Linked DNA regions of Homo sapiens. The protein of the gene in region 1 interacts with the protein of each later gene in a biochemical or structural test. Each region holds a gene or a part of one and is shown in the gene's direction. Other genes may lie near its edges. The genes, in order: FBXO45 and PAWR.

Region 1 (15,822 bases):
AAAGGGAAATAGGAAGAATCAGATTTGGAGGGCTGTGAAAGCCAGGCAGAAGAATTTGCAGTTGGTGATGCTACTAAGTATGGAACTACCAGAGGTTATAGAACTGGGATGAGATATGTAGTAAAGGTGCTGTTTTAGAAAGACAGGTTTGGAAATAATTCAGATAGAGAGTTGAGGACTGAGTTTGGAGAATTTGGTTGGGGCAGAGGAAGGGTGGTCACCAAAAAAGGAAATGATACAGGATCAGTTCAGGGAAATAGGAAGATGTCATAGAAGTTTGAGGAAGAGAGGGCCGGGCGTGGTGGCTCACGCCTGTAATCCCAGCACTTGCGGAGGCCAAGGCAGGCGGATCACCTGAGGTCAGGAGTTTGAGACCAGCCTGGCCAACATGGTGAAACCCTGTCTCTATTCAAAATTCAAAAATTAGCCGGGTGTGGTGGTGCACGTCTGTAATCCCAGCTACTCGGGGGAGGCTGAGACAGGAGAATCGCTTGAACCCAGGAGGCAGAGGTTGCAGTGAGCTGAGATTGAGCCACTGCACTCCAGCTTGGGTGACAGAGTGAGACTCTGTCTCAAAAAAAAAAAAAAAGAAAAGGAAGTTTAAGGAAGAGGTTGTCAATAGTGTCAATGTGAAATTGGAATTTATAAGAATTGGGGAGTAGGCATAGGGAAATATTAATTAAATATTTTATAGTGAATTATTGATATTATTCTCTTGAGTTATTTAGACAGTATTTGCTATTTTGGGGACATGTTCCTTCCCCATTTAATCTTCTTTTCCTTTCTTTTCTTTGTTTCTTTTTTTTTTTTTGAGACAGGGTCTCACTTTGTCACCCAGGCTGGAGTGCAGTGGTGTGATTTTGGCTCACTGCATCCTCTGCCTCCTGGGCTCAAGCATTCCTTCTGCCTCAGCCTCCCAAGTAGCTGGGATTACAAGCGTGCACTGCCACGCCCAGCTAATTTTTTGTATTTTTACTAGAGTTGGGGTTTCGCCATGTTGCCCAGGCTAGTCTTGAACTCCGAGTTCAGGCGATTTGCCCACCTTGCCTTCCCAAAGTGCTGGGATTGCAGGGGTGAGCCACCGCGCCCGGCCCCTTCATTGAATCTTACGTTTTGGTCTTATAAGTGCCTTAAAGTATTTTATAATACGAGCAGATAGGAAAAACATTGGGAATGCCTCAGTTTTATTGTGAATGCATGGGATACTGGAAACAAATAGTTCTCTGTTTTTAAATCTGCGCTCTGCAGCTCACTGAAACGGTAGAGTGCCAGCGAATGGTAAACGAACAGGTGGTGAGGGGACTGGATCCTTGATCTCTCTTTGGGCCTCTTGCACTAACTCGCGGTTGAAATCCCTGAGAAGGACTAGGTGACCTTTAAGGGTCTTCCTAAATGCTGACATTCTATGCCTCTGGAGTTGATTTTTCTCAGGTTAGCTGAAGCATAGGTCCCAGCCTTCCACTGCTTTGGGTAGTTTGACTAAAGTAGAGAAGGGATTTTTTAAAAACATACTAGCCAGGCAGGCGTAGTGACTCGAACCTGTAACCCCAGCTACTCGGAAGACTGAGATGGGAGTATCACTTGAGCCAAGGAGTTCAAGGCTGCAGTGCGCTACGATTGTGCCACTGCACTGCAGTCTGGGTGACAGAGTGAGACGTTGTCTAAAAAAAATTTAAAATACACAAACTAAAAGTTTAAAATTGTTTATGAGAAATTGTTATTGTTTGTATAGAAGAGCTATTTTCATACCCTCTTTATTTTGGAAGTGTAAACCTTTGTATTTACTGAAGAGTCAACTAACTTGTCTTATTGATAGCTTCTCTTCATAAATTCTAGTAGTTGAACCTAGATGCTATCTAAGGGATTATTTGATTTGGTAAAATGAGATTGGTGATTTTTTTATTGTGTAAGTCATATCCAGCAAGTAGGCTGAGGATCTAAGGTAGTTTGTGTTTACTAAAATTTTTCATAAACTTTAGAGCTGCTAGGATTAAAGTTTCTGTTTTATGTAAAATATAATTCTTTTTGATGACAGCATTGCCCATATGAAAACTGTACATCTCAACTTTTTGGTATAAAAATATCAAATATAAACAAAAGTAGAGAAAATAGTTTGATGAACTTCCTTATACCCATCACCAAGCTTTGCCAATGATTAATTTATGGCCAGTCTAGTTTCATGTTTCTATTGCACACTCTCCCACTCCATCTCTGGATATTTCAAAGCAATTCCCAGATACCATTATTTTATCCATAAACGTTTCAGTATTATCTGTAAGATATAAGGATTTTTCTTTTTTGTATCTTTTGATGTTTTAAGAAGTCTGTTTGAGGAAATACTACAATTTAAAATTTTGGTCAGTGATGAAACGGTTGGCATTTATTTTTTAATGTTATTTATTCTGTTAGTATTCCATCCTGAAACTTCAGCCATTATTTGGAAATACTTGTGTTATTTTAAAATATATAACTTCGTTATTTAAAAACATACAGCGTGAAGTTTGGGTAATTTTTAATATTTAAGAAAAATAAAATTGTTATTTATTTGGTCTGTTTTTCATCTTTTTAGATACGTGCTTTTCAACATGCCTTCAGCACTAATGACTGCTCCAGGAATGTCTACATTAAGAAGAATGGCTTTACTTTACATCGAAACCCCATTGCTCAGAGCACTGATGGTGCAAGGACCAAGATTGGTTTCAGTGAGGGCCGCCATGCATGGGAAGTGTGGTGGGAGGGCCCTCTGGGCACTGTGGCAGTGATTGGAATTGCCACAAAACGGGCCCCCATGCAGTGCCAAGGTTATGTGGCATTGCTGGGCAGTGATGACCAGAGCTGGGGCTGGAATCTGGTGGACAATAATCTACTACATAATGGAGAAGTCAATGGCAGTTTTCCACAGTGCAACAACGCACCAAAATATCAGGTGAGAAACTGGGGTTTTTCTCAAGTATGGGCCTTTGTCAAATCACGCCTTAATTTGTTTTAAATTTACAAATTTTTATATAGCAGTTTTTGTCTTTTTGGTAATTTTTATTTTTATTATTTTTTTATTTTTTCAGATACCCAGACTTCAAGGAGATTTTTTTTTTTTAATGTTAGGGGGTTATAGTTAATTTTGTTGGGTGTTATATTTTGATTTTGGCTATGCAGAAAAATATTCTTTTTTTTTTTTTAGACAGAATCTCACTCCGTTGCCCAGGCTAGAGTGCAGTGGCGCCAACTCGGCTCACTGCAACCTGCACCTCCCAGGTTCAAGCAATTCTCTGCCTCAGCCTCAGTAGTTGGGATTACAGGCGCCCACCACCATGCCTGGCTAATTTTTGTATTTTTAGTAGAGACAGGGTTTCACCATCTTGGCCAGGCTGGTCTTGAACTCCTAACCTCGTGATTCACCTGCCTTGGCCTCCCAAAGTGCTGGGATTACAGGCGTGAGCCACCATGCCCAGCCTCAAGGAGATTTTTTGACCATTTTTAAATAAATGTATAAATGATCTATCTCAATATTTGTTTCCTAATACAACTTTAAGCAGCCTATTTTTGCTCCAGATCAGGGGTTGGCAAACTTTTTGTAAGGGCCACGTAGTAAATCTTTAAGTCTTTGCAGTCCATATGGTCTCTGTCACAACTTTTTTTTTTTAATGTCATTTTCAAGGTAAGGATCTATCACGAGTTTCAACTCTATTTATAGTACAAAAGCAGTCATCGATAATACGTAAATGAACGAACATGGCTGTATTCCATAGACCTTATTTATGGGCTGCAGGACAGATTTGGTCCAGGGGCTGTAGTTTGCCAGTTCATGCTCTATATCAAGCTTGTCCAACCCACAGCCTGCATGCAGCCCAAGATGGCTTTGATTGTGACCCAATGCAAATTCATAAACTTTCTTAAAACATTATGAGATTTTTTTGCAATTTTTTTTTTTAAAGCTGATTAGCTATCTTTAGTGTTAGTGTATTTTATGTGTGGCCCAAAACAATTCTTCCAGTGTGGCCCAGGGAAGCCAAAGGATTGAATACCCCTGCTCTAGATGGTCATCTTTCCTGTATCACGGCACATCCAAATCTTTTTCTAGGCTCCTTACCCCAGTAAATACAGCTCTGTGCATGCACATGTTTGTGGATTCAAAGCCCCTGGAGGCATCAGTGAGTTCTGCAGAGACAGGCAAATTCAGGCAAACTGCTGTATTTTTTATTCTTTTCATCTTAGGCTTAAGGCATACTCATTTGACTCAAGTTAAAATTATAGTTCCTATTTGTAAAAGCCGTATTTATTACTACAGACTTAACAGGGTGTAATATACAATAATCTGATAAGAAATTGGAAGTCTTTAAAGAACTATAGATTGCATATTTCAGAGCCACCTGTGGCGTGAAAGTTCCAGCCTCAGTAATGACCTCAAGTCAGGCATACTAAAGCAGAAGAACCAAAAATACATCCCATTTTCTGAGGTATAAAAGCTGGAAGGATTTTTTTCATGGAATGTTTCCTCACTATCCTTTTAGGCTCTGCGGATACTATAAGGAGAAGGGTGTGTAGACTTTATCACTAAAAACGAAGTCCTGTCGCCACCCTTGTAATGATTTTGTAAGTGAAAGTCCTTAAGTCTGTTTTTCAGAGAACATGCTCTATGGTTTTAGTCCTTTTAAATTTATTGAGATTTGTTTTATTCTAATATGTGGTCTGTCTGGATGAGTGTCCCATGTGTGCTTGAAAAAATGTATATTCTTTTGCTGAATGGAATATTCTGTAAATGAGAATTAGGCAAAGTCGATTGATAATGTTCAAGTCTTACATAGTGTTACTGATTTTTTTCTACCCTTCTATTATTTACTAAGAGGAGTATTGAAATCTCCATCTATCCTTGCTAATTTGTCTTTCTTCTTTTAGTTCTCTCAGTGTTTGCTTCATGTATTTTGGAGCTCTGTTACTACTGGTGCATATACATTTCTAATTGTTTTATCTCCCTGCCTGATTTATTCTTTTATTATGAAATGACTTCCTTTGACTCTAGTAATCCTCTGTCAATCTGTCTTTGTATTTAAAGTGGAGCTCCTACACAGCACATAGTTGGATCTTGATTTTTATCTAACCCAGTCTCTGTCTCTGACTTTTTTTTTTTGAGACGGAGTTTTACTCTTGTTGCCCAGGCTGGAAGTGCAATGGCGCAATCTCGGCTCACCGCAACCTCCACCTCCCAGGTTCAAGTGATTCTCCTGCCTCAGCCTCCCGAGTAGCTGGGATTAGAGGCATGCGCCTCTAAACCACGCCCGGCTAATTTAATTTTATATTTTTTTAGTAGAGAAGGGGTTTCTTTTTTTTTTTTTTCTCCTTTTGAGACAGAGTTTCACTCTTGTTGCCCATGCTGGAGTGCAATGGCATGATCTCAGCTCACCGCAACCTCTGCCTCCCGGGTCCCGGTTCAAGCAGTTCTCCTACCTCAGCCTCTTGGGTAGCTGGGATTACAGGCATGCGCCACCACACCCAGCTAATTTTTGTATTTTTAGTAGAGACGGGGTTTCACCACGTTGGCCAGGCTGGTCTCGAACTCCTGACCTCGTGATCCGCCTGCCTCAGCCTCCCAAAGTGCTCGGATTACAGGCATGAGCCACCATGCCTGGCGAGACGGGGTTTCTCCATGTTGGTCAGGCTGGTCTCGAACTCCCAACCTCAAGTGATCCACCTGCCTTGGCCTCCCAGTTGCTGGGATTACAGGTTGTGAGCCACTGCGCCCAGCTTCGGTCTCTGACTTTTAAGTGTTTAGTTCATTTACCTTTAATGTAAGTGTTGGATTGCTTGATGTTGTCCTTATCTCTGCCTCTAAAACTATGTTCTTGTTTTTTCCCCCAACCTTGTTTCTCTCTAATCTTTGCATTAGATAATTTCTTTTCCTTTTTTTTTTTGAGATAGGGTCTCGCTCTGACACCTCGGCTGGAGTGGTGCAGTGGTGCAGTGGCGTGATGATCTTGGCTCACTGAAACCTCTGCCTCCCAGGCTCAAGTGATCATCCCACCTCAGCCTCCAGAGTAGCTGGGACTACAGGTGCTCCCCACCAATGCCTGGCTAATATTTGTATTTTTTGTAGAGACAGGGTTTTGCCATTTTGCCCAGGCTGGTTTCAAACTCCTGAGCTCAAGCAGCTGCCTGCCTCAGTCTCCCAAAGTGCTGGGATTATAGGCATGAACCACTGGGCTTGACCTAAATTAGATAATTTCTGTTCTGTCTTCAAGGTTATAAATTTTTTTCTTTTGCCATCTCACCTCTGCTATTGAACTGGGCTAGTAAATTTTGCTTATTGTACACTTCAGCTTTAGAATTTCCTTTTTTTTCTTTTTCCTTTTTTTTTTTTTTTTTTTTTTTTTTTTGAGACAGTCTCACTCTGTCGTCAGGCTGGAGTGCAGTGGCACGATCTGGGCTCACTGCAGCCACCGACTCCCGGGTTCAAGTGATTCTTCTGCCTCAGCCTCCTGAGTAGCTGGGACTACAGGTGTGTGCCACCATGCCCAGCTAATTTTTGTATTTTTAGTAGAGATGAGGTTTCACCATGTTGGCCAGGATGGTCTCGATCTCTTGACCTCGTGATCCGCCCGCCTCGGCCTCCCAAAGTGAAAGTACTGGGATTACAGGCGTGAGCCACCACACTGGGCCTGGTTCTTTTTTAGAGTAAATTTCCTTTTCGAGATTCCTTATTTATTTACTTATACTATATTTGTAAAAAAATCTTTGGACATATTCATAACAGCTGCTTTGAAGTCTTTACCAAATCCAACACTTAGGACCACTTGGATTCAGCTTCTGTTGATTGCTTTTTTCCCCTAAATATGAATCACGCTTTCCTGTTTCTTTTCATATCTAGTAATTTTTTTAACTGAAACCTAGATGTGTAGATAATATGTAGTAGTAACTCCTGAATGTTTTGTTTCTAGAAACTGCTTTATTCTCTGAAAAGTATAGGTTTTCTTGTTTTAGTAGGCAGTTAACTTGCCTATACTCAAACTATAAACTCTGTCTCATGTGATGTGTGGCAGCTAATGTCTGCTCAGTTTTTTCAGCTTTGCTGCTTTTTTAGTCCTGGAGGTTTACCCTGTGCCTTTGTAATATAGTGGTCACTCAGGGATTTGGGAAGTTAATTCTCAGATTTTGGGGTTCATCCTTTCTGTGGTTCTGTTGCTTCTGGAGTTCCTCCTCTAAGTTTCCAGTTGCTCTGCCATCTCCCCACGTTTTACCCCAGCACCTAAAGATGGTAAGACTTCGCTTTCTCCACCCTGGGCTTTGTGCGTGCTGTGTGCTCAAAGGTGAAGCAGATTTGCAGATTTCACCAGGAGTAATCGTTACTTAGTTTCAACTTCTGTAAAATAGGGATAGTTCCTAGGATTAGTGTGAGGATTAAATGGGATAATACAAATACGACACAACACAAATACCCAACAAAATTAGCTTTTCATTTCTACTTTGTTAATATTTTGTTGGTAGGAGTGGTGGTGATGATGATTTGGAGGTTCTTAGATCCATAAAATGAGGTGTGGGTTAATCTGTGAGGTGGGCAAAGGGAGGAAAAAAGCAGATGTTGGCAGTTACTGTTAACAGGAAATACAGTGAAGGAAAGTAAATGACAATAGTAGGGGTTATAATCAGGTAGAATTAAATTTTGATTGCAAACATTAGGACTTTCTGTTTCCAATTTTGTAGATGCAACATCTTTTTATAAAGGCAAACTAAAAAGATGAAACATCCTTTTTTTTTTTTTGCTTACTTTTCCAAATGGGAAAAAACTGGATATATTCTGCTTCCAGTTTCGTTTAATAATCAGTGCTGCTGTTTTTTATAACAAACAGGTGTTTCAGAGTTGTGAACCACAAATTGTTTAATAAGCCTATTCTATATTCTACATTAGAATTTGTAGCCAGATTGGATTATTCATGATTCCACATTACATGTGGAACTGCTTTGTAAACTTTAAAAGCTGTGTGTCTTACTAAGGTGATTTTTAAAATTGTGGTGAAACATACATATTTATTATTTTAACCATTTGTAAGTATACAATTCAGTGGCATTAAATACATTCACACACCTCTCTCTATACCCAAAACTTTTTCCTCACCCCAACATAATCTCTATTATGTTCATTCCCTATTTCCTTCACTCCCCACCCCTGGTAAACTCTGCTCTACAACTATATATATTTGAGTATTCTAGATACTTTATATAGGTGGAATCATACCATTTAGCCTTTTGTGTCTGGCTCATTTCACTTAGCATAATATTTTCAGGGTCTATCTATGTTGTAGCATATATCAAAATTTCATTTCTGTTTATGGCTGAATAATATTCCATTGTACGGCCGGGCGCGATGGCTCATGCCTGTAATCCCAGCACTTTGGGAGGCTGAGGCAGGTGGATCACGAGGTCAGGAGATGGAGACCATCCTGGCTAACACGGTGAAACCCGTCTCTACTAAAAATACAAAAAATTAGCCGGGCGTGGTGGCGGGCACCTGTAGTCCCAGCTACTGGGGAGGCTGAGGCAGGAGAATGGCATGAACCCGGGAGGCGGAGCTTGCAGTGAGCTGAGATTGCACCACTGCACTCCAGCCTGGGCGACAGAGCAAGACTCCGTCTCAAAAAAAAAAAAAAAAAAAGTTCCGTTGTATGTATAGTATAGTAATTTGAGAAGCTGATTTAGATTGCTCTTTTTGGTAAAATATGCCAAGTTATAGATTTTAGTGTTAACCTTAAGAAAAACCTTTAAACAAAGAGTAAATAAAATCAATCTAGGTAGTGTTCAGGTGGAACATTTAAATTGTAAGTAATTAAGTGTAGATTCCATGTGAGTCTTAAAAACAAAACTATCAAAGTAAGCATTTGTGATGTGTTACCTAGGCTGGAGTGCAGTGGGCAGTGGTGCGATACCAGCTTTGCGCCACCACACCCAGCTAATTTTTGTATTTTTAATAGAGATGGGTTTTCACCATGTTGCCCAGGCTGGTCTTGAACTCCTGGGCTCAAGCAATCCGCCCGCCTCAGCCTCCCAAAGTGCTGGGATTATAGGCATGAGCCACTATGCCCGGCCAGATGTATGTCCTTTTTTTATAGATGTTTCTTCCTGACTAGAAAGCTTCCCTTCTGATTTTTCTAGATAGCTTTCAGGATAATATTCTTAATATTTTCAACTTCTTGATTTGTGTCTTGTTTCTTCTAGCTACACCCTTGGCAGATTTTCTTCTAACCTTTTGATATCTGTTTGCAGATAGGAGAAAGAATTCGAGTCATCTTGGACATGGAAGATAAGACTTTAGCTTTTGAACGTGGATATGAGTTCCTGGGGGTTGCTTTTAGAGGACTTCCAAAGGTCTGCTTATACCCAGCAGTTTCTGCTGTATATGGCAACACAGAAGTGACTTTGGTTTACCTTGGAAAACCTTTGGACGGATGACAGTGGCTTTCTTGTGATGACAGACAGAATGGAGGAGAGATCTGCTTATGGGAAGTAGAACCATGAAGTGACTGTCACACATGCATGTCCAAGAAACATCCTGAAAACACATGAAGTCGTAAACTGGAGAAGCAGCTCTACAGCAGAGATTATCTTCGTGTTTCCTCTTTCTACTGGGCCAGAAAAATCCTCAGGGTTGCAGTTGGTTGAGTGGGCAGTTGACATATGCATGTTGCACCCGATGTTGTCTCTAAGTTAGCAATGTGTTATTTCCAGCTTTAAAGGTGAGATTGTAGAGATGCTGTCAAAGGGATAAGGAAATAGCAAGATTTTTAAGTAGTGTGTTTGTGAAGACTGATCCCATTTTACAACTGCCTGTTCTTTCTCCAGTCCTTTTTTTTCCAGCCAGCTTGACTATTAGAAAAGTATGAAACTGGTTGGGTTTTATTTAATATTTTTAATATATTGAGAAGCATGGTCTGCCTGGACTGCACTTCTCTAAAAGTGAGATATAAAATTGTGCAGCTATTTTAAAAGTTGTATATAATATGTGTGTAAAAAAAAAAAACTGTAAAAAAGAAAGGACAAACAGGTTGTTTTGTTCTAGTTCTAATTTCTTAAAAACCACTACATGGTTACAAAATTGGAATAACATTTGGGGACAACTGGGTTAACTACAAAGAAGAGGATTTTAAGAGGAGATGTGTTGTATTGACTCATTTTGTATTATTTTTGGCTTACAGTTCCCATAGCTGTTAGAGTCTGGTTTGTTTTTGTTTTTACTCTCAAAATCATAGTAAAGATCTCTCAGTCTCCTGGCTAAAGATTGAAGGAAGGCAAATCTATTTCTAATTATACATATATCAGTAAGGATGATCTCAACATAATAGTAATGTGTATCTTTTGGTATCCAGTTTTATTTTTGGCCTTCTAAGAAAGTGTCTCATAACACAGAACATTGCCATTTGCTCTTGTAGGCCTCAAATATGAAAGCTATTAGTCATAGAGCCTAGGAAAAAAAGAATTGATTAATGGTCCTTTTATTTTGTAACCTTATAAATGCTGTAGATATTATCAAAAAAATTTTAATTTCATATTGTTTACATCATGCAACTAATCTAAGCCTCAAACTCGTTATTGGGGCTATAAAGAAAACGTTTACTTACCCAGCTGAAACAGGTTAAGAATATTCTTAATCTCATTATAGATAATTGCCCCCATGGGACTTGAAATACAACACCTTGTGCTGAAAACTTCAGGTTGGCAATATTTGAAGGTTTCGTTGTAGAAGAGTTTAACATTAACTCCTATTTTGACTTACAAATCTTGTTTCTCATCACTAAAATGCTTTTGAATTAATAATCCAACCCACATGAGCTGAGAGTTTTTCTTTTGTTAGAAAAGAAACAGACATCTTTCTGTATGAAAGTATAAATTGTATGGTTTTAGATACATAAGAATTGACAAAAGCGAGCGAAATCTTTGTACTTCTGAGTTCTTGCTGTATGTATGTTTTGTTTTAAATCTGATTAGGGACACCCAGCAGCTGGCCGGGATTCTTGGATTGCTCCTTGGGAGTTAAGATTGTCAATACTCCTGTGAAGCAAGGGATTTCAGCCATAGAACAAAGATTTATTGTTGCCACCTGAAAAGTTTACAAGTATTTATTGTGTATTTGATACATTGCTTGAAAAGATGAAATCTGTTAAAGATTCTTTTCGATGTCCAGGTTAAGAAGAAACCTCCTTGTATTGAGTGAAATTATATGTTAAATGTATTAGAGAATGTAGGTGGTATAGAAATTGATTTTTCTTGGTGTAGAACAACTCAGTTCGGCAAAGTTTAAAATTTGATTAAACAAGAGAAGTGGTTCAGGTTGAAGATGGACTTGTTAGGAAGTGATCAAGTCCTTTAAGTACTTGTTTCTTTTTCAGGTTGTGATGTGGCCATTCCGAATTTTGTTGAGAGTTTGGTTTATAATTGTCTCTTTTGTCTTGTTAGTAAACATTCATTTGCAACAGTTTTGAAGGTGCTGAGTGGAAAACCGAAACACATGGTTATTGCGTATTGGACCTAGAATGAAATAATTGCCTCAATATTTAACAACAAGCCATTCTTATCTCAAAGATTTAAATTCCCGAATGTCCCATTCGCAAATCATATGCAATTGAAGTGAGCAGCATGAGCATCTGGGTCATGAGGGCCTTCATTTACGTAAATTTGTCACTAAAACCCAGTAGTAGCTCTACAAAATCTTAAACTGCTGCAGTGCTCAAGGAGATGGAATATCTTTGTCATTGGTGCTGAGGAGAGCATTTCGGTAGAAGACAGTTGCGCCTGAAGATTGAGTGTAAATCATTCAAACCAGTGGTTCTCAGTGTTGGCTGTATACACTTTGTAGTCACTTTGGAATGTTGGAAGACACATCGATGCTTGGGTTCCGTATGCCAAGATTCTGATGTTGGTCTGGAATATGAGCTGGTCATAAGGATTTTTAAAAACTTTCTGGTCATTTCAATATGCTGCCAAGGTTGAGAACCACTGTTGTAAAATTCACCTTGAGTTTTCTCATCTGCAAAATAGAAAAAAAAAAATCCTTGCTCCCTCCCTTCACTACCTCACAAGGATATTGAGGGTAAAGGAGAAAATAATGGGAAAGTGCTTGTGCCGTGGATGAAAAGTGCTATTAAAAGTCAAAGGAGTGTTCTGTTTCAATTCATAGTATGATCAGGGAAAGTGTAACTGAGTATACTTTGTTGACTTGGGAAACCTGGAGCACTTTCTTTGGTTGGTTAACGAAGCATGCAGATGTGGAAGCAGACGTTACTATTATCCCTACTATGGTCTTCTGTCATACTGAGACAGGCTGTTTTAATTACCTGGTTTTACATAGGAAAGAAGAAATATTAAGGCTTAAAGTTTGTAATGATCAATGGCTCATAATTCATTAAATCTTTTCATACAAGGAATTTGTGGTTAATGTCATTTCATAGTTGCCATTATTTTCTCATTATTTGACTTAAATGTTAAGCCATTTATTTCATCTCCCTCATTCACATAAAGTGTAGATATGGATTCAATAAGACACCAAAAGAAAGTAAGATTTACCCAGTTAATATTTAAAATCATTGTTCAGTGATTAGGCATTTTCTGCCTTTTAGAATTATTTGACTGGAGAAAGAGTTTCAAAAATAGCAGAGCCCTAAACCATAAAGAAACTACTACTGTATAATGAACTTTTGTTTGTTTTTGGAGACAGGGTTTCACTCTACTGCCTAGGCAGGTCTTGAACTCCTGGGCTCAAGCAGTCTTCCTGCCTCAGCCTCCCAAGTAGCTGGGATTACAGGTGTATGCCACTATACCCAGCTTTAACTTTTAAATCCCCAAACTATGTAGATTGTCATATTAATATTAATTTTTTTTTGTTATTTTGAAGAAGTGAGTAATTTGAAGAGATAGAAACTTAGGGAGTGGTGTGTGTGTTTCTTTTTTGGAGACAGAGTCACGCAGGCTGGAGTGCACGATCTTGACTCACTGCAACCTTTGCCACCCAGGTTCAAGCAATTCTCGTGCCTCAGCCTCCCGAGTAGCATGTGCCACCACACCTGGCTAATTTTTTTCTTTTTTCTTTTAGACGGAGTCTTGCTCTGTTGCCCAGGCTGGAGTGCGGTGGTGTGATCTCAGTTCACTGCAACCTTTGCCTCCCGGGTTCAAGTGATTCTCCTGCCTCAGTCTCCCGAGTAGCTGGGATTACAGGCACCTGCCACCATGCCTGGCTAATTTTTGTATTTTTAATAGAGACGGGGTTTCACCATGTTGGCCAGGCTGGTCTCGAACTCCTGACCTTGTGATCCACCCACCTCAGCCTCCCAAAGTGCTGGGATTACAGGCATGAGCCACTGTTCCCGGGCCTAATCTTTGTATTTTTAGTAGAGGGGGTTTATGCCATGTTGGCCAGGCTGGTCTTGAACTCCTGGCCAACACCACCCACCTCGCCTCCCAAAGTGCTGGGGTTACAGGCGCGAGCCACCGTGCCAGGCCAGAAATTTAAGGAGTTTTAAAGGTTAGCATTGAAAAGATTACTTTCCAGAAATTGAGACCACCACAGTTCCACAATTGGGACTGTGGTAGATAATCAGGACCACTTGGAAGCCTTTATTAGGAACAGCCCACACCCAGCCCAAATGCTGTCCTCAAAAACATTCCTCAGTTTCTCTAGCTGAATGTAATCTCTCCTTGAAATTTCCCTAGTTTTATATATCTATAGTTGACTCATGCTGTATTTATTTATACCTTGTTTAAAATTATTTATTGATTATTTATTGGTGTCATATCGCCCCTAAACTGGGACAGGATCTCTAACGGACTCATCTTTGTGCCACAACATGTAAGCCCAATAGGCAGGTGCTCACATATTTGCTGAAGGAACAGAGAAAGAACTGCGGAGAAAGACAAAAGCTCCTCTGAAGTTTTAGACTATAGAAGCAAAAATTATAGTAGCAAAAGATGAATGAGAAATTCTGTTCTAGTCCCAGTGAAGCAGGAAGGAAAGGGTTGCAAACTTGAGGCTGGTAAGGAAGAAATAATTACTGTGAATGCATTTAGCCACTCCCCTCTACTCAAAAATACTGGTAAACTCTGATTTTTATATTTGTTTAGAATTTAAATTAGAATTCTGTATCTTTATTTTTTGGAATTCTGTTGTTTTGCCTTAGTTTCTTAATAAAAAGTTAAACATTAACCACCTGTGATTGCTTACATTTAAAGACATTTTTTACACATTGGTTAGAAAGAAAAATTGGGGTGCCTTAATAGCCAGAGGTGGTGATGGAATTTACCTATAAATTCCATGGCTTTAATAATAGAATCCACATTCCCCATGTTTAGAATGGAAAGTGGACAGAGAACAGTAATTCACTAGGGTCTTATTTCCCAATTGCCTCTACCGCCCCCCACCCCACCCTCCTGCTGACATTTGTTTGATAATGCAGTTGTTTGCCAAGAATTATGAGAGACAGGCATGCTATTCCTGAACTGGCTGAATACACGGCTCCTGTGATCCAAAAGCTTAAAAGAGAATCAGTTGATGATGTTGCTAAACAAGTTGGCTGATATGTTAAAGTTCAAAGCATTTTAATTTTTTTTTTTTTTTTTTTTTTTTTTTTTTTTTTTTTTTTTTTTTTGAGACAAAGTCTTGCTCTGTCACCCAGGCTGGAGAGCAGTTGATGTGCTCTCGGCTCATTGCAACCCCTGCCTCAGGTGATCCGTGTGCCTCGGCCTCCCAAAGTGCTGGGATTACAGGCATGAGCCACCGTGCCCAGCCCAAAGCATTTAAATTTTATAAAAGAAAAATAGGTGTAAATGTTCTGTATTTGCCGCTTTGTTTAGTGGAAAGAGACGCCAGAGACAGCTTTACCAGTCTGTTGTCCTGATTTCTTTTTTGGATCCTCCCTCGAACTGTTTGCTTCTTATTTAATGTGTTCACTAAAATACTGTTGAGAGCAACATGTTCTCTAGTCTTCAGAATAATAGTTTGCTGAAAGAAGTAGCCCTTTAAGATTTAAGATTGTTATTCAGCTTTTGTATGTAGGATTTCATGATGAGTGGCTCAAGAAGTAGGAATCATTTGGGGAGTTTCCTTAGGTCACCCTGTTGATAGTGTTTAATTTCTGTTTAAGGCAGGAAAACATTAAGAAAAGATTAGAGAAGTCAAGTCCTGTCTATGATATGATATGATACTTGTACACCATGTTATATTTCTGCCCCCTTTCCTGTATAAATAAAATGGGGATAAAATCAAGTAATGGTTTTGAGGTCATAGCTCCCTTAAGAAAGTCTCCCTGAAATAATGTATTAAAATTCTAGCGTCTCAAGTTAGATTCATTAGAGGCATATTGTAGTGGGAACAGACCAGATATCTTTGTTTATTTTAATATAGCTAACTTGTTCATATTCCCAACCCATGTTTAAAGAGCATATGATTGATCTGTGCCCCCTTGTTGGTCATCTTCACCTTGGAAGGAAAGGAGGCTTAAGGTTGCAATGAGAGTTGTTGATGACATCTCTAACCCCTCAGTAGGCCAAAGAGTGATGTAGTTCATGATCCAATTGCCCAGAATAGCACGGACAGATGGTTACTTTGCTAAAAGACATGTTGGTAGCAAAGACACTGCTCTGAGCAGAGACTGGTGGCAAAGCCCAGCGCAATCCACCCTTCTGAGCACAGCCTACAGGAACTTCAGTGCCGACGGAGTCACGGAGGCCACTCTAGGTTTTACATGGCCATAGTTGAGCTTCTGAAATTTTGAAGGATCTCCCTGCCCACCCAGCTACTAGTCATCCACTTGGTAATGTAGACAGAATGAAAAAGGCAGGAAAGATCATTCA
Region 2 (15,782 bases), on another chromosome or scaffold:
GAAGCAAAACCCTCAAAAGGGGAAAGATACAGGTGGCAGGACAGCCTTTAAGAGGAGCAGATAACTTCATTTAATTAAGAAGGCAGAGAGTAGATCTAGATGCAGGAAGATGGGTAAAGCTGTCTTGGGCAGATAAGCCCTACTCTGAGTGGTGCTATTTTAGAGTCAGTGAAGTGTGAAGGCAAGCTCATCAACTGAGAGTGAGGTTGGTATAAGGAGGTATTGGAGGCTTAAAAGACTGATATAAACTAGTCATTTTGGAGTACAGGAAAGCAAGCTTACTAGGATTGCCAGATAGTATGGACTGCCTAGTTAAGACTATGGACATGCATTAAAGTTGGGTTAGGAAGCATGCCATAGTGTTTTTAACTATCTTTCTTTAGGTGAGCAGGTATACACAGAAGAGGCTAATAATTATAAACTTTAGAACTAAAGCCTAGTAAGGAAGTTAGGACATGGAAAGGAAGGATAATGAAAAATTAGTAGGATCAATAGATCAAAAAATGGTTGGAGTGGGGGTATGAGAGGAAGTGTGCTGAAGAGTTAGGTGGTAGTGGTTGAAAATGGAATGTTCAGAACTGAGATTTTGAAGATGTACTTATTGATGATGACAAAGTCAAGAGATATCTAGCTGAAGAGGGGGTAAAGAGGAAAAATGTTATTTGGAGTGAGGAGGTCAAGTATCTGAGATGCCAGGAGACTGGATAAATTATCTTTGTAGATGTTATCACTAAGAACTGGACATAAAGAGGAGTGGGGAGAAAGAAGGTTAGCTAGCAGTTAAAGTCCTCAGTAAGTAAGAGTGACTTGGAAGTAGGCTGACAACAGGAACAATGAGTTGCTCCTTGTAGAGAGTGGTATAGTCTGATGGCACTAAAACCAGTCTGTGGGAAATTCTTCCAATCATGAGACATGTAAAATAAGCAGAGAATTAGGTTTTCATTGGCATTTGATATACTTTCCTATCAGGAATAGATATTCTTTCCTATCTGGAATATATGATATAATGCTGAGTATAAAATTATGAATGGCCTATACATTATTTTCCTTTTTGAAGTAGATTTTTTTTGATGTACAATTTATAAGAGTTCTTGTGTTTGTGATGCATAAACCTATATACTTGTACTACAAATAGTGGATATATCTGCATGTAAAGACATGTACTTTATGCATCAATAAGTAATAAAATCAATAATAAAATGCATACAAAATGGCATAGAAATATGTCAGAGAGTAAATGAATAGGGTTTTTTCCTGGATTTTTGTGATATTTATGGCATTTTTCAATTTGTTAAAATTTGTAATTTAAAAAAATTTCTCACTTATTCTAAATATTTATTTTCTTACGGATTATTTTTCTTATAGAAAGTCCACCAAATTATGTAAGCTTCAGGCACCATAAAATCTAGGTCTTCCCTGGATAGGCCAAAAATCTGGTCTAAGATTACCTACAGGCAATTGAAAACAGAATATTCACTAGCTATATGAAAAATAGTTTTACTATATGGTTAAAAAAAGTTCCAAAAGAGAACCACATCTATTCTTAATATGGATGTCAGAAATGTTTTCTAGGTTTTTGATAATAGGAATATATGTAATATAATGGGCCACACCTTCAAAAAAAGCCTACAGAAAATAAAACAAATTTTTAGAGCTCTTTCTTATAGTGTCAATCAATATGGGCTTATGATGTAAATCACTGAGGACAGAAATAAGATGTAGACGTCTCTGCTGATCTGGACTTATGGAGTAGATTGCAAAGTATCTAGAAATCTGCAAAACAGATGAATTGGACTTCCTATTAAATATAACAGGCTGAACACACGTGTTTATCTTTACTTCCTCAAGTAACTTCACTAAAACCAAAGTAAAATGATAAACCAGTAACAACAAAGAGGATGAACAGTAAGAACAAAATTTTGGAAGATGAAAGATAGAAAGCAGACAGGCTTTAGCAGAGCAGAGTAAGGTAAATTCTAACAACCTGCAAGAGACAAAGCCAATAAGAAGTAATCTTTTTTTGTCCTGCAGATCCCTGAAGAAAGGTTCAGAATTGGAGGCAGCAGCATATACCTCTGAAACAGAGTGAAGGATGGGGATGAAAACAGAAGGATTAGTTGAAAATCTACACAAGGAACAGTTAGATTCTCAAATCCCTTCTGCAGGGCTCAGTAGCAAGGAGACTATCTCTCCTGATCCTGGCAGAGGACTGGAAGTTTTCACATTGTACAGATGTTGAATTACAAACGCACTGAAATTGGGTACGTCAGATATACTAAGTATAGGGATTAAGTGAAAACCTGCGTATTGAGTAATGAGACTCCTCCAGTCTTCTTTCCCTACTTGGCACCTGAAAAAATTGGCAACTGACAACACAAGCAGAAATAGTTTTACTCAAGGAAAATTATTGGGCCAAAAGAGAAGCTCCATAGATGCTGAATTTGACACATGCCTCCAGAAAATGTCTGCGGCCAAACACCGGCTCCCTAAATGAGGCCCATCAGTCCAACAAGGTCTTCCTTTTCACATAAGAGCTTTCAATCAGCTTTGCAGTGCTTCAGTCTTAAATATGAATAAACTGATGAGGAAGTGCTCTAACATGAAAGATGAAGATTAAAACAAACAAAAAATGTAGGCAATTTGCTTAGAGGACAAAATGCTCAATATGTATCATAAGACCAAGATGCTACAGAAAAAAATATTTAGAGAACAAGAAAGAGATATTAGAAATAGTGTCCGAAACAGAAAATTCTATAGAAGAACTGGCATACAAAGTGAAGGAAATTTCACTAAAAGTAGAATAACATGCCAAGGAAATGAAAAATAAAAGAGAAAAGAGAAAAAATTTGTTAGAGAACTTCTAGCATTCCAACACCTACTTAACAGGAATTCCAGAAGGCAGGAACAGAGAAAGTAGAAGGAAAGTCTTATAAAAGAAAGAGAATAGGCCAGGCACGGTGGCTCACGCCTCTAATCCCAGCATTTTGGGAGGCTGAGGCAGGTGGATCATGAGGTCAGGAGTTCAAGACCAACCTGACCAACATGGTGAAGCCCCGTCTCTACTAAAAATACAAAAATTAACCAGGCGTGTGTGCCTGTAATCCCAGCTACTCAGGAGGCTGAGGCAGGAGAATCGCTTGAACCCGAAAGGTGAAGGTTGCTGTGAGCCTAGATCAGGCCACTGCACTCTGACCTGGGCGACAGAGCGAGACTCCATGTCAAAGAAAAAGAAAGAGGATAAGAAAATTTCCTAACTGGAAGGCAGATAGCTGATTAAAAGGGTCCACTGACTGCATAACATAATAATGATAAAAGACCAAATCAGAGCATATCTTCAAGATATTTCAGAGGATCTAAGTAAGAAGATCCAAAAATTTTGAGACAGAAAATACAATGCAATCAGAATGCCACTGGTCTTCTAAACAGCAACTCTGGAAACTAGATGATAATAAAGCAATGCCTTCAAAATTATGAAGGAAAATGCTTTCTAACCTAGAGTTCTATGCTCCACCAAACTATTAATCAAGTATGAAGATAAATTTAAAACATTTTCCAATATGCAAGGTCTCTAAGAATGAGTTATACTATCTTCAGAATATACTGAGGATATACTCTGCTAAAATGAAGGGGAGAAACAAAAAGAGAAAAGTATGCAATTCAGGAAACAAGAAGTCTACAGAGAAAATGATTCTCAAGGTGTTAGAGGAGCATAATCCCAGGATGACCACAAGCAACGAGCCTTAAAATCAGTCCAGATTAGGCCAGGTGCGGTGGCTCACACCTGTAATCCCAGCACTTTGGGAGGCCAAAGCAGGCTGGTTGCCTGAGCTCAGAAGTTCGAGACCAGTCTGGGCAACATGGTGAAACCCCCGTCTCTACTAAAATACAAAAAATTAGCTGGGCGTGGTGGCATGTGCCTGTATTCCCAGCTACTCTGGAGGCTGATGCAGGAGAATTGCTTGAACCCAGGAGGCGGAGGTTGCAGTGAGCCAAGACTGCGCCACTGCACTACAGCCTCACCAACAGAGCGAGACTCCGTCTCCAAACAAACAAACAAAATCAATCCATATTAAAGCAGGGGATGGAGGGCTCCAGAACAGATGTTTCCAAAAAGAGAATAGAACTGATAGCTTACCCAATGTGATTAACGTCATTGAGAGGAGGAAAATTTGAGTATATACTTGTGACTGGTATATAAAAAAATAAGCCGATGATTAAAGAAAAAAAAAGAGGCAAGTTTTAACTGCAGAAAAATGGTAAAGACAAAAGGTATAGTTGTGCAACAAGGAAAAACAGTTGTAAAAAAAAAGAAATGCAATCATATACACCACATGACTCAGCTATGAACAGTATTTGTATAGTCATAATACTACGGGCGTGTAGGAGTATGAAAAGTATATGTGTGGCCGGGCATGGTGGCTCATGCCTGTAATCCCAGAACTTTGGGAGGCCGAGGCGGGTGGATCACGAGGTCAGGAGATCGAGATCATCCTGGCTAACACAGTGAAACCCCGTCTCTACTAAAAATGCAAAAAAAAAAAAAAAAAAAAAAAAAAATTAGCCGGGCGTGGTGGCAGCCACCTGTAGTCCCAGCTACTCAGGAGGCTGAGGCAGGAGAATGGCGTGAACCCGGGAGGCGGAGCTTGCAGTGAGCCGAGATCGCGCCACTGCACTCCAGCCTGGGAGACAGAGCGAGACTCCATCTCAAAAAAAAAGAAAAAAAAAAGAAAAAGAAAAGAAAAGTATATGTGTTATTAGTGTATTAGAGCTAAATCCTCTTCTATATCTAAAAATGGAAAAATCAAGATGTACAATAGCAGATATGCACATAAAAAATAAATATGAAGATCTCTATTAATGGAAACAGTTAAAAAGTTCAAAGTTTTGGGTAGGGTTTTCAGAATGGATAAGGTAGAGAGGGGATTGCTGTTTTTTGTTATAATCCTTGTAGAACTAAAGTATGTAATTTTTTTATCCTATGCACATATAATATTTTGATGTTAGAGGATGAATTGCATATGTTCCAGAAATACCTGCATTGAAGGCAAAATGGCTACTTCCCAATACACTAGCTATCCATACATATAATAATACACTTCCTCAAAATCATTAAGACTAACATCTAGGTTTCACTCTGACATATTTAAATGAATCTGTTTTTGTCAGCATTATCATCATATTTCATTTTATTATTAAGGGCAAGTGAGTCGCTAAAAATTGGTTATTTTAGGCTAACTCAGAGGTGCTCAACCGGGGAAGAATTTTATCCCAGGGACCATGTGGCAATGTCACAATACAGGTGGGGGTTTCTTATTGGTATCTAATAGGTAGAAGCCAACGATGCTGCTAAACAACCTACAATGGGCAGGACAGCAAAGAATTATCCAGCCCCAAATGTAACAGTGCTGAGGTTGAGAAACCAAGCTCCAAGTCTTTGAGGATTATTTCATCAGAACGCTATACATAAAGATTGATGATATGCAAACATCTTGCAATTTAGGACTGACTCAGCTAAATACCTCGGTGCAATGTTGGAAGCAGTCTGGCTGTGAAATATATCTTCGGGAATATTGAGAATGGTAAAGACAAAAGGTATAATAAATGATAATAATAACAAAACACAGAGCTTTGTACCTCAATAATCTCTTTCATCCATGGTTCCTAGGGCACTTTATAGACTAATAATACCTACTCTGGTACTCACATACCACCTTTTATCTAAGGACTGCAGGCACTTTCACAACACTCTCACGATGCAGGAAGTATTATTATCCCCATTTTATATGTAAGTAAACAGAGGCACAAAAGTTAAGCAACTTGCCCAAAGCCACACAAGTCAGTAGCAGCCAAAATTCCTGACTCAGAACCTATTAACACTAAGAGAACTGGTCTAAGCCATGCAGTGATAAATTTATGTGGGGTGTTATCCTAGTTCATTCAAAGTCTATCGTTTTTAGGCTGATATTGTATATTCAATACCCCATCTGTTATAATTTCCTCTTCTCCCATACACTTCTTAGAGACCAAGGACTTTAAGCCCCTAGAAGGGACTATGTTTACTGAGTGCCTTCCTCGAATCAAGCACATTTTATGTGCAGTGTCAGTTCTTAAGACAGCTTAAATATAATGTAATTGGGAGGCTGAGAGCAGGAGAATTGCTTGAACTCAGGAGGCGGAGGTTGCAGTGAGCTGAGATCCCGCCACTGCACTCCAGCCTGGCGACAGAGCGAGACTCCGCCTCAAAAAAAAAAAAAATGTAATTTTTGCTGATTTTATAGTACAGAAAGCTGAGTACCAGATAATGTAAACATGCCCAAGATCTCTCAGCTAGCTGACTATACCCTCTTTCCACTATATCCTGCAGCCCTTCCAGGAGAAAAGTCCTCTGATAAGTTACAAAGCATATGAATGTGAATACGTTTAATGTCCCAGCCTCCCTTACTCTCCTTAAAACTCAGAAAACAAACTAATGAATATGTAATTGAGAAACTTCAGGTGGCACACTGGGGTTGGTACTAGCTTAGGTAAACAGCCGCTCAGCCTTTTAGACCTATTCCCAACAAAAGCTTTTAATTTTCTAAGGATTTTTCCAGAGCTCTCGCCATACGTTTCCCACAACAGCCAGACCAAAGACCAAAACTGTCTTTCCCTGAGAAATATAGAGCATGTGAATCACTTTCTTCTGTTCCCAGTTCTGTGGCAGGCAAACACTGATTGCTCACTCATCATGTGCTACCTGGGCAAAACAGGAATATTAAGTAGGAAGAAAGGTTTATGTTAGGTAAGAGCGTGACTTAGGGCTCTCCTACTTTTTTACAAAATGGAGACCTGGCATTTGTAGCCTCCCACAATGATGTGCCCTGACATTACTTGGATATAGAAAGGTCAGTCTTAGGTGCGTCAGTGACAGCCCACCCCGCTCTGATCCAGAAATTTCAGATGACTTGCATCAGAGGATAAGCCTCTGGCATGTTAATAATGAAAAAATAGAGACAATCACTGCCCCAGCTCATCTCAAATTAGCATCAGTGCAGCGTTAGTACTTTGGTAGGGAGCTTTGCTGCTAAATTCATTCTCTGTAAAGAGGAGAGGCAGAGACAGGGTTAAGGGGAAAACTCCAAGACTGGAATCGCCAATACAATAAACTGTCGAACTGAGTTTTTTCTCCCGCAACCCTAAGATACTAGTAAGTCCTTCCTCTTAGCCAACCCTTTTCACCAGGGCACCGCAGTTTTCTTAGAAGGAGGGTGCTGGGTTTGTCTCAGGTCTTTCTATTCTCCTGCCCGCTGCCCTAGTACATCTGAAAAGGGAGCAGCGACTAGGAAAAGAGACACGTGGGTATTTTCCCATCCTGTCTAGTCATTCCCTGAATCATCACAAGTTATCGCACTTTTCCCCTTAGCCAGCAGCGTTCGAGACTTTCTCTCAAATAATACGGTCTTGTACTTAAAAGGAAGAGTGGTGGGAGAAGAGAGAGGCGGAGAAGACAAGCAAGAAGGGCGTGGAGTGCCGTTCCCGCCCCGGAGTCGGAGGCGCCGGGAGGCCGGACGCCGCGAAGCTGCTAGCCCAGGAATGTGCCGTCTAACTCGCAGGCCGCGGGCGGAGCGCGGCGGGCGCGCTGTGGTCTGCGGCGGGAGCGGGGCAGAGGACGGCTGGCGCAGGGCAGGCTGCAGCGGCGGGCCGGACGCGACGCCGCGCACCTGAGCGCCGGGGGCGGGGCGTCAGCGGCCACGACCCTTCCCACCGCGCGCCGCGCCCCTCGCGCGCCGCCTCGGCCTTTTCCGCTCGTGCTTCGGCGCCGCTCGGCTCCCTTCCCGCCCCTGGCTCCCTCCCTCCCTCCCTCCCTCCTTCTTCTCCCTCCCTCCTGTCCTGGGATTGCCTGGAGCTCCGCACCGCGAGTTTGCCGCGGCACTTTCCGCGCGGCGGAAGAGCGCGCGCCAGCTTCGGCACACCTGGGAGCCGGATCCCAGCCCTACGCCTCGTCCCCTACAAGCTCCTCCAAGGTAAGGCGCTCGCTCACACCCGGTCCTTTCCACGCTCGGCGGGACAGCTGGGTCCCCGCCTCCTCTGCGAACCGGCTAGGAGCTCCGCGCCTCGCCTTGGGAGTGGGGTTGTAGCTGACGGGGACCTCGGACCGGCGGTGGCTAGAGCGCGGAGCAGGCGATACGACGAGCCGACAGGTGGCGGGTCTAGCCCTAGTATCTCGACCGCCGCCGGCGCGGACCTTGGTGGGGATGGGGCGGGCGGGCCGACTTGGGGGTGGGGTCAGTCCTCTCTCCTCCCTTCTAGGGGCGGCGATCGTCGGGGTCCGTACTGTAGGTGCGTGGGAGAAACTTTGCAGGGTGGGGACCCGGCGGCTGCTGGCCGGTAGTGACTGGTGGGCGCGCTCGAGGACTCCAAGGGGCGCAGCCCGGGGGCAGACCCTTGGGTCGGGCGGGGATCTTACGCTTCCCTTACCCGCCCCCTTTTGTCTTTCACCTCAGCCCCGCCGGCTGCTGTGGGAGCGGCGGCCGTCCCTCTCCTGGAGGTCGTCTCCTGGCATCCTCGGGGCCGCAGGAAGGAAGAGGAGGCAGCGGCCGGAGCCCTGGTGGGCGGCCTGAGGTGAGAGCCCGACCGGCCCCTTTGGGAATATGGCGACCGGTGGCTACCGGACCAGCAGCGGCCTCGGCGGCAGCACCACAGACTTCCTGGAGGAGTGGAAGGCGAAACGCGAGAAGATGCGCGCCAAGCAGAACCCCCCGGGCCCGGCCCCCCCGGGAGGGGGCAGCAGCGACGCCGCTGGGAAGCCCCCCGCGGGGGCTCTGGGCACCCCGGCGGCCGCCGCTGCCAACGAGCTCAACAACAACCTCCCGGGCGGCGCGCCGGCCGCACCTGCCGTCCCCGGTCCCGGGGGCGTGAACTGCGCGGTCGGCTCCGCCATGCTGACGCGGGCGGCCCCCGGCCCGCGGCGGTCGGAGGACGAGCCCCCAGCCGCCTCTGCCTCGGCTGCACCGCCGCCCCAGCGTGACGAGGAGGAGCCGGACGGCGTCCCAGAGAAGGGCAAGAGCTCGGGCCCCAGTGCCAGGAAAGGCAAGGGGCAGATCGAGAAGAGGAAGCTGCGGGAGAAGCGGCGCTCCACCGGCGTGGTCAACATCCCTGCCGCAGAGGTGAGCCGGGCGGGGGCCGCAGCCGGACCGGGCCGGGGCGGGCAGCTGCCTCCCGGTGTCTTCCTCCTGGGAGCTACCCGGGGCGCAGAGTTTACCTCCCCTGGCTCGTACTTGTCCCTTCACCGAGTTAGGCAGGCAGGGGGTGATGGAGTTTTACTCTGAACAAATGCTTCCTGGGAAGTTCCCCAAACTCAGAGTAGGACACGTGCTTTTCAGGCTTCCTGGCCAGGTCTCAGATCCAGGATCCTTTTTTACCGTGGTAGAAAGACAACTTATGGCTCCAGGACTTGCCCACCTGGACTTGGCTGACTTGGCCACCTGGACTTGGCTGTTTATGCTTGATCAGTTAGAAAAATTGATTAATGGTGACGACATTCTCTAGGGTCTCACGTGCCCATGTGAAGTTACCAGTTTATTTCTCCTTTCTTACCAATGTTTAATAACATCTGTAAAGAAAATGTTGCCTTAGCAATATCCAAGACAGCTTTATCTTACAGTGAGCTCAAGATGAGTATATCCAAATGAATACGTGCACTATTTTATATATAAATCAGCTGTTTATAAGTTGTGCTCCTAAACACACAGTGTTTTTCTGAGTGATACTTAGGACAATAGGGATGATTTAGTAACCCACAATTCTGTTCGCTAAGACGATCTCTTTTTGAGTACTGTGTCTGAAAAACATGTGGTAGGGTTTTTGTTTGTTTTGGGTTGTTTGCAGTTTGGAGCATTTTCGAAACGTTACAGGTAGCAGCATCTTCCATTAGAGTGACTGGTAAAACATTTTTACTAAGTGTATAATCACACCTCCCTCTACCAGAAACAAGACAAAACAATCTCAAACAAGTTTTGATTACTTTGATAGTAGCTCATGGATTTGAGGAAGTGGTTCAACTACCTTGTTTCACCTAAAATAGTTGCATCTTTTTCTCATTGACTGTTTAGCTTTCACTTTTTCTTCTCCTGGCTTTCTAATTTTACTCAACTTTAATTGTGGTTTAAGTAGAAGCATTTGCAATAAGTTAGGGTGTATATTAAATATACCTAAATTTTTAGTATTATGATTTCCATACCTGTTAAATCATAGTGTGTCTTTGTAGGACGTATTTATATGAGCGTTTCAGAGATTTTTATCAGCCAGCAAAACTGTCCTCTGCGGTTTGCTACTTGCACAAAAGATCTGTTATTCATTAAATTGCTTTAGAAGGAATTCGTAAGAGTGGTAATCAAATTTCTAGGTGTTTTTTTTTTTTTTTTTTTTAGTTAAAAATATGAAGATTAAGGGGAAATTGAAGACAAGGCTTTGGAAAAGCTACATTCCTCAACTTGATTTTTAAAAGTAGCTGATGATCCAAATAAAAGAATTTGTCATTTTCAATCTTTTCCTCATTGTTCATCTGACAGCGGTCTTATTTTGGGAAATATCTTGGCAGATGTTAAACTTCACTTTTTTTCTGGCTGCATGTGCTAAAATTATTTTTCAAGTACTTTTTTTTTTTTTAAACAAGGGTAATGTTTACTGGGGGAAGTAAGTAGAGTGTATCTTGTGAGATCCTAAGAAACATCTTTTGTTAATACCCCTGCTTTGAGTAAGAGAACATAGTGCTGAGAATGTAGATGACTTCCCACTACAATGGAGTCTAATACTCTGGAATGTTTTTCGTTTGGGTGTTGGCAACTCCTAAATTTAATCTTCCCTGAAAACAAACAAACCAAGGGTACCTTTTTTTTTGTCTGTAGAGTTTGAACCTTTTTATTGAATAGGGAATTGAGGACTGCTTTCTTTTAGTGGTAACTATGTCTCTGTCCGTTTCAAGCTGCAGGACCCAACAAAACAGTAATGCTTCACTACAGTATCTAATTAACAGACATACTTCTTGAGCGCCTCCTCCTCATATTTTCTTATTTTTCAAAACAACTTATGTATTTCAGATTATTTTAATAGTGGTAAAATATATGATGCAAAACTTTAAAGCTGAGCCATTTTCATGTGTTTATATTGTTGCTTTTTTAGAATTGTGCCATTTCTCCTGGTAGTTTCAACATTGAGAATACCAGTTGCTGTGGAGTTTCTTGTGTAATATTTAATTTAGCACCCCTGTTTTAAAAAGTCATACATATTTTGCAAATTTTTCGGGTATGAAAATAAGTAAAAAGATGAAAATGACCAATCTCTTTATATTCAAAAGTAGACTTTATTTTATCTAATGTCGAGTAAGACTCTTATTTTCAGACATGATTCCCAACCAAGTCTGTATTAGTAGATTAACATGTAGTTCATATGTAGAGATCTGGTTTTAATGGTGGATAAACATTAAGTTCCTTCAAGGAAGTACTTATGAAACATCTGTGTGATACATTTATTGTGACTTTCATTACCTCACTTTACTAGTTATAGAGTGTATATATAATACTGTTATAAAGGTATCTGACAGCAGCTAAAGATACCAGAATTGACTAGAAGATAGTTATAGGCAAGGAACCAGGTCAAAAACCGAAACTAGCTATTTGGGAGGTAGGAAACTGGGTGGTTACTGCATGTGATGGCTGAAGTCGATCTATCCAGAGCTTCTTTAATGAGATAAAATTTACTAAGAGTTTTAAGAAAAATATCCTTTTTTCTAAATTTTTACATTTTCTATTTTTTGGTAGTAATTCACCTGAACTGGGTAATTTGGACGTGGCATACTTCTTGCCAGTAATTTTTGTGTGTGTTTATCAGATCAGTCAAATGTGTATTACATACCTGTTAAAGACACTATCCTTAAGCAGTGGAGAAAATAAGAACACGGCAGTGTATATTCTCAAGGAGCAAGGCTATAATCTAGGAAGAAGGATAAGGCATAATTACATGAAAAAATTTAAGTACTGAGTTAACAGTTTAAAAGCCATCTTAATGAAGCATGTAACTATTTATTGGAAATAGTGTGTGTTTAAAAGGGGGAGATGATTGGGCTGGGAGAAGCTATTGAGGATGAGAATCTTGACCTGAGTCTTAAACTTTTCAGTACTTGTATATTTTTACATATGTTCTCACATATGTACATGTATACATAATTGTTTGTATAGTATATTAAGTACCGACATGCAGTGGTTCTTAACTTGAGCAGCACATTGATAGCATGTTAGGATCTTTAAAAAAATGTTTGCTCATGCTAATTCAATTCCGTGCCCTCTTTGTCCCTTCACCCCACCCTGTAATATTGAATGGGTCTGGGATGGATCCCAGGCATTAATATTTTTATAAGTTCCCCATTTGATTCAAATGTGAGTCAGTGATAACAACTGTTGGACTGCAGTCTGGGTATAGAAATGAATAGGACATAAGCCTTGCCCACGAGGTGCTCTCAGGTAATATAAGGAAATGTGAAAAGTAGAGTAGTAAGTATAGCTTAGTGCCTGAGCAGGGTACCTAACCCAGGGAGGAGGAGTGATAGTTGAAGAAAGCTTCCTAGACAGTTACATACTTGTTTCCAGGGGGTTTGTGAAGTTACTGCCATTGAGTAGGGTTGTGTGAATGGGTTAATGGAGATGGGTGCCATAGAAAATGTAATCTTTGAATAGGTAGAGGTGGCACTGAAGTTTTGGTTTAAGTATAAAAGTTAACATATACAGTATTTAAAACTTCTGTTTTAAAATAGTGGTTGGCTAAAGTGGTTTAGCTTTAGTGGTTGGCTAAAGTGCTTTATGTACTGAAGTTCACAGCAATCTCATGTGGTAGTTACACTGTTTATCACTATTTCCAGAGGAGAAAATGAAGACTTAGAGCTTAAATGATTCAAGATCACATAGAAAGTAACTGATAGAGCAATATTTTAAACATTTTTGTGTATTTTGTGTGTATGTATATATCTAGGGAAAGGGGAGTTTTTAAAAATTAACCTACTTTTCATTATTCAGCATATTTCCCTAGATTTTTACATAACTTTTTATTAAAGATTATCTTAAGTAATTTAAACATCTGAATGAGGAAAACAGTAAAGGTATGGAATTGAATAGAATTTCAGGTCAAATTTGTGGACTCAGAGATTGCCTCTGACCCTCTAACCTATAGAGTGGCAAAATTTTGAACACCAGGCTCTCGGCAAAACGTAAATTTATTTTTGGCTAGTGGTCAGAAAATGTGAATCTTTGATTTTACCTAAGTGATATATTGTTTTTCTATCAAGATGGGGTCATGACACCTACTCCATAGTTTGAACTCGTGTTGGTGAAAGGGAAGATAAAGGAGCATTTAACATATAGAAAGCACTTTTAAGTGAACACAGGTTAGGTCATAATTATTTAGTATGTTTATTGAACATTATATATAGGACAAGTTCCACTTAGTAAACTTTATAAATCCAGGTGGATTAAGAAATGCCTTTTGTTATTCCCATTATGCTCCAGACTGTCTACCTTTCTGTGTGATGAGTCAGGAGAGAAACTAATAATGACTCAGAGTTGGAGAAAATTTGATTCGTGAATGGGGTAGATATAGTGTAAACACTGAGACTGTTTAGTGTAAAACCTGGGCTATTAGCCCAGCTTTCCTAAATGTTTGAGCTCACTGGTAAAGTAAATTGAAATTTTAATATTATCAGGATTTGTACTGAGTTGTCTGAGCTGGGATGTCATTTCTCATAAAAATAATAATTACATAATTAAAGTAGATGACATTTATGGTGTGCTTATTAAGTGCCAGGCACTGTTCTAAGCACTTGACATACATTAGTGCATTTAATTCTCACCACAGCCCTATGGGAAAATGGGGAAGAGAAGGTATGTTACTTGCTTCAGGTCATACATGTAGTGAGAAGTAGATTAGAGATAGTTTGCACTCACAGTCTTGTGCGTAATAAACCATCTTACTACACTTCAGTGTATTACATACTGTATACCTAGTTTAAGAAATACAAAGAATATTTTAGTGTTAAATTGTTAGTATATGACTATGGAATTTAAAAATAGCCCTATTTATAGAACATAGATGAAGTGAGACTTTAATGGAAAATTTTGAGAACAAATGAATATATAAACACTGGCATTAAAATTCTTATTTAAAATCATTATCAAGCTAGTGGCCTGTTTATACTATTTTCTTTGTTTTTTTCTTTCTTTCTTTTTTTTTTGAGGTGGAGTCTTGCTCTGTTGCCCAGGCTGGAGTACAGTGGCATGTGGTGTGATCTCAGCTCACTGCAGCCTCCACCTCCCGGGTTCAAGCAATTCTCCTGCGTCAGTCTCCCAAGTAGCTGGGACTGCAGGTGTGCACCACCATGCCTGGCTAATTTTTGTATTTTTAGTAGAGATGGTGTTTCGCCATGTTGGCCAGGCTGCTCTCAAACTTCCAGCCTCAAGTGATCTACCCGCCTCAGCCTCCCAAAGTGCTTGGATTACAGGTGGGAGCTACCGTACCAAGCCTATCTATGCTATTTATTATTTCTGCATTTTTTTTTTAGCACCTATGATGTGTGCCAGAAAATAATTATGCCATTTAATAGCAAGGTTGATATAATGTTTTATAAGTATAAAATTATTGGCAAATATTAGGGTTTGACATTTTCTCTGTGCTTTTTTTCCTTTTTTAAAAATTGAGATATAATTCACATACAATAAAATTTACCCTTTTAAAGTGTACAGTTCAGTGGTTTTTTAGTATTCACACGGTGTGCTCTTAAGTGCTTTTATATTTTCATCTTTATTTTTCATTATGTTCTTAGAACCTCTGGTCCCTAAATTTTAGCTTTCCTTTCAGTAAAGTGATATGGTATTCAAATTATGAGAAGCCATTAACTTAAAATAATTTAATATCAGCCTTTCCCACTTTACAGAGAAAATGAAATTATGGTAGGATCTCCTCAATTTTAAGTTTCTTAAAACTTGGGCACCTACTACCATTTGTTTGCAGTGGAGTTTAGTATAATAGGTATTTATTAGGTTTGTGCAAAAGTAATCACAGTTTTTGCCATTGAAAGTAATGGCACCAGCCTAATAGTTGGATTACTTTTGCAAAAACCTAACAATTTAACTGAGTGTAATACTTTCACCTTAATAAAACTTTTACATATCTTTCATGGAGATCTGCAAAGCTCTGTCATCTAAACATTTGGGAACATTGATTCAGAGTTAAAAAAAAAAAAAAAAGGAGTTTCCACTGCTTACCACTTTAGTTACAGTACTAGAATCAGTGTCCTAAAAGATGTTTCTGGGGGGACCATCTCTACCAGTATCACTTTTGCCATTTATTTAAAATCAGATTTCTGGAATCCACCCCAGTCTGGGTTAGGGATGTTATCTGAGAGTCTGCATTTTAACTTGAGTGATTTTGGTACACACTAAAGTTTGGGAAGAACTAACTTAAATACCCTGTACTAGTTTACTGATCCGTCAAATGAAATGAATGCTGGTTATCTAACAGGATTGTTACATGAATTAAATAAAATGATGTTTGTGAAAATGTTATAAAAATGCCCAAATCAGAAATTGTAGTTACTGTATAGGTTAATTTCCTATGAGGTTGTTAAACATTTTCATTTTTTTCTTCCAATTTAAAACTGTGCATATTTTAACAGACAGGTTGAGCTACTTGGAAATTCAAAGTACTTTAAACATTTATGTAATGTCACATACTTAGTGCAAAATGCTCTGTCTGCTTTG

Evidence for each region.
Region 2: the proteins of FBXO45 (region 1) and PAWR form a complex in vitro, tested with the Homo sapiens proteins (one study listed by BioGRID).

What each region holds. Positions count from the first base shown.
Region 1 is NC_000003.12:196,574,884-196,590,705, forward strand, and holds the end of FBXO45 (F-box/SPRY domain-containing protein 1), read left to right. Parts: intron 1-2,569; coding exon 2,570-2,926; intron 2,927-9,249; coding exon 9,250-9,435; 3' UTR 9,436-14,176; downstream 14,177-15,822. UniProt on the Homo sapiens protein: Component of E3 ubiquitin ligase complex consisting of FBXO45, MYCBP2 and SKP1. Functions in substrate recognition but also plays an important role in assembly of the complex.
Region 2 is NC_000012.12:79,683,093-79,698,874, reverse strand, and holds the start of PAWR (PRKC apoptosis WT1 regulator protein), read left to right. Parts: upstream 1-7,910; 5' UTR 7,911-8,003; intron 8,004-8,293; exon of another isoform or gene 8,294-8,319; intron 8,320-8,337; exon of another isoform or gene 8,338-8,483; 5' UTR 8,484-8,630; coding exon 8,631-9,146; intron 9,147-15,782. UniProt on the Homo sapiens protein: Pro-apoptotic protein capable of selectively inducing apoptosis in cancer cells, sensitizing the cells to diverse apoptotic stimuli and causing regression of tumors in animal models.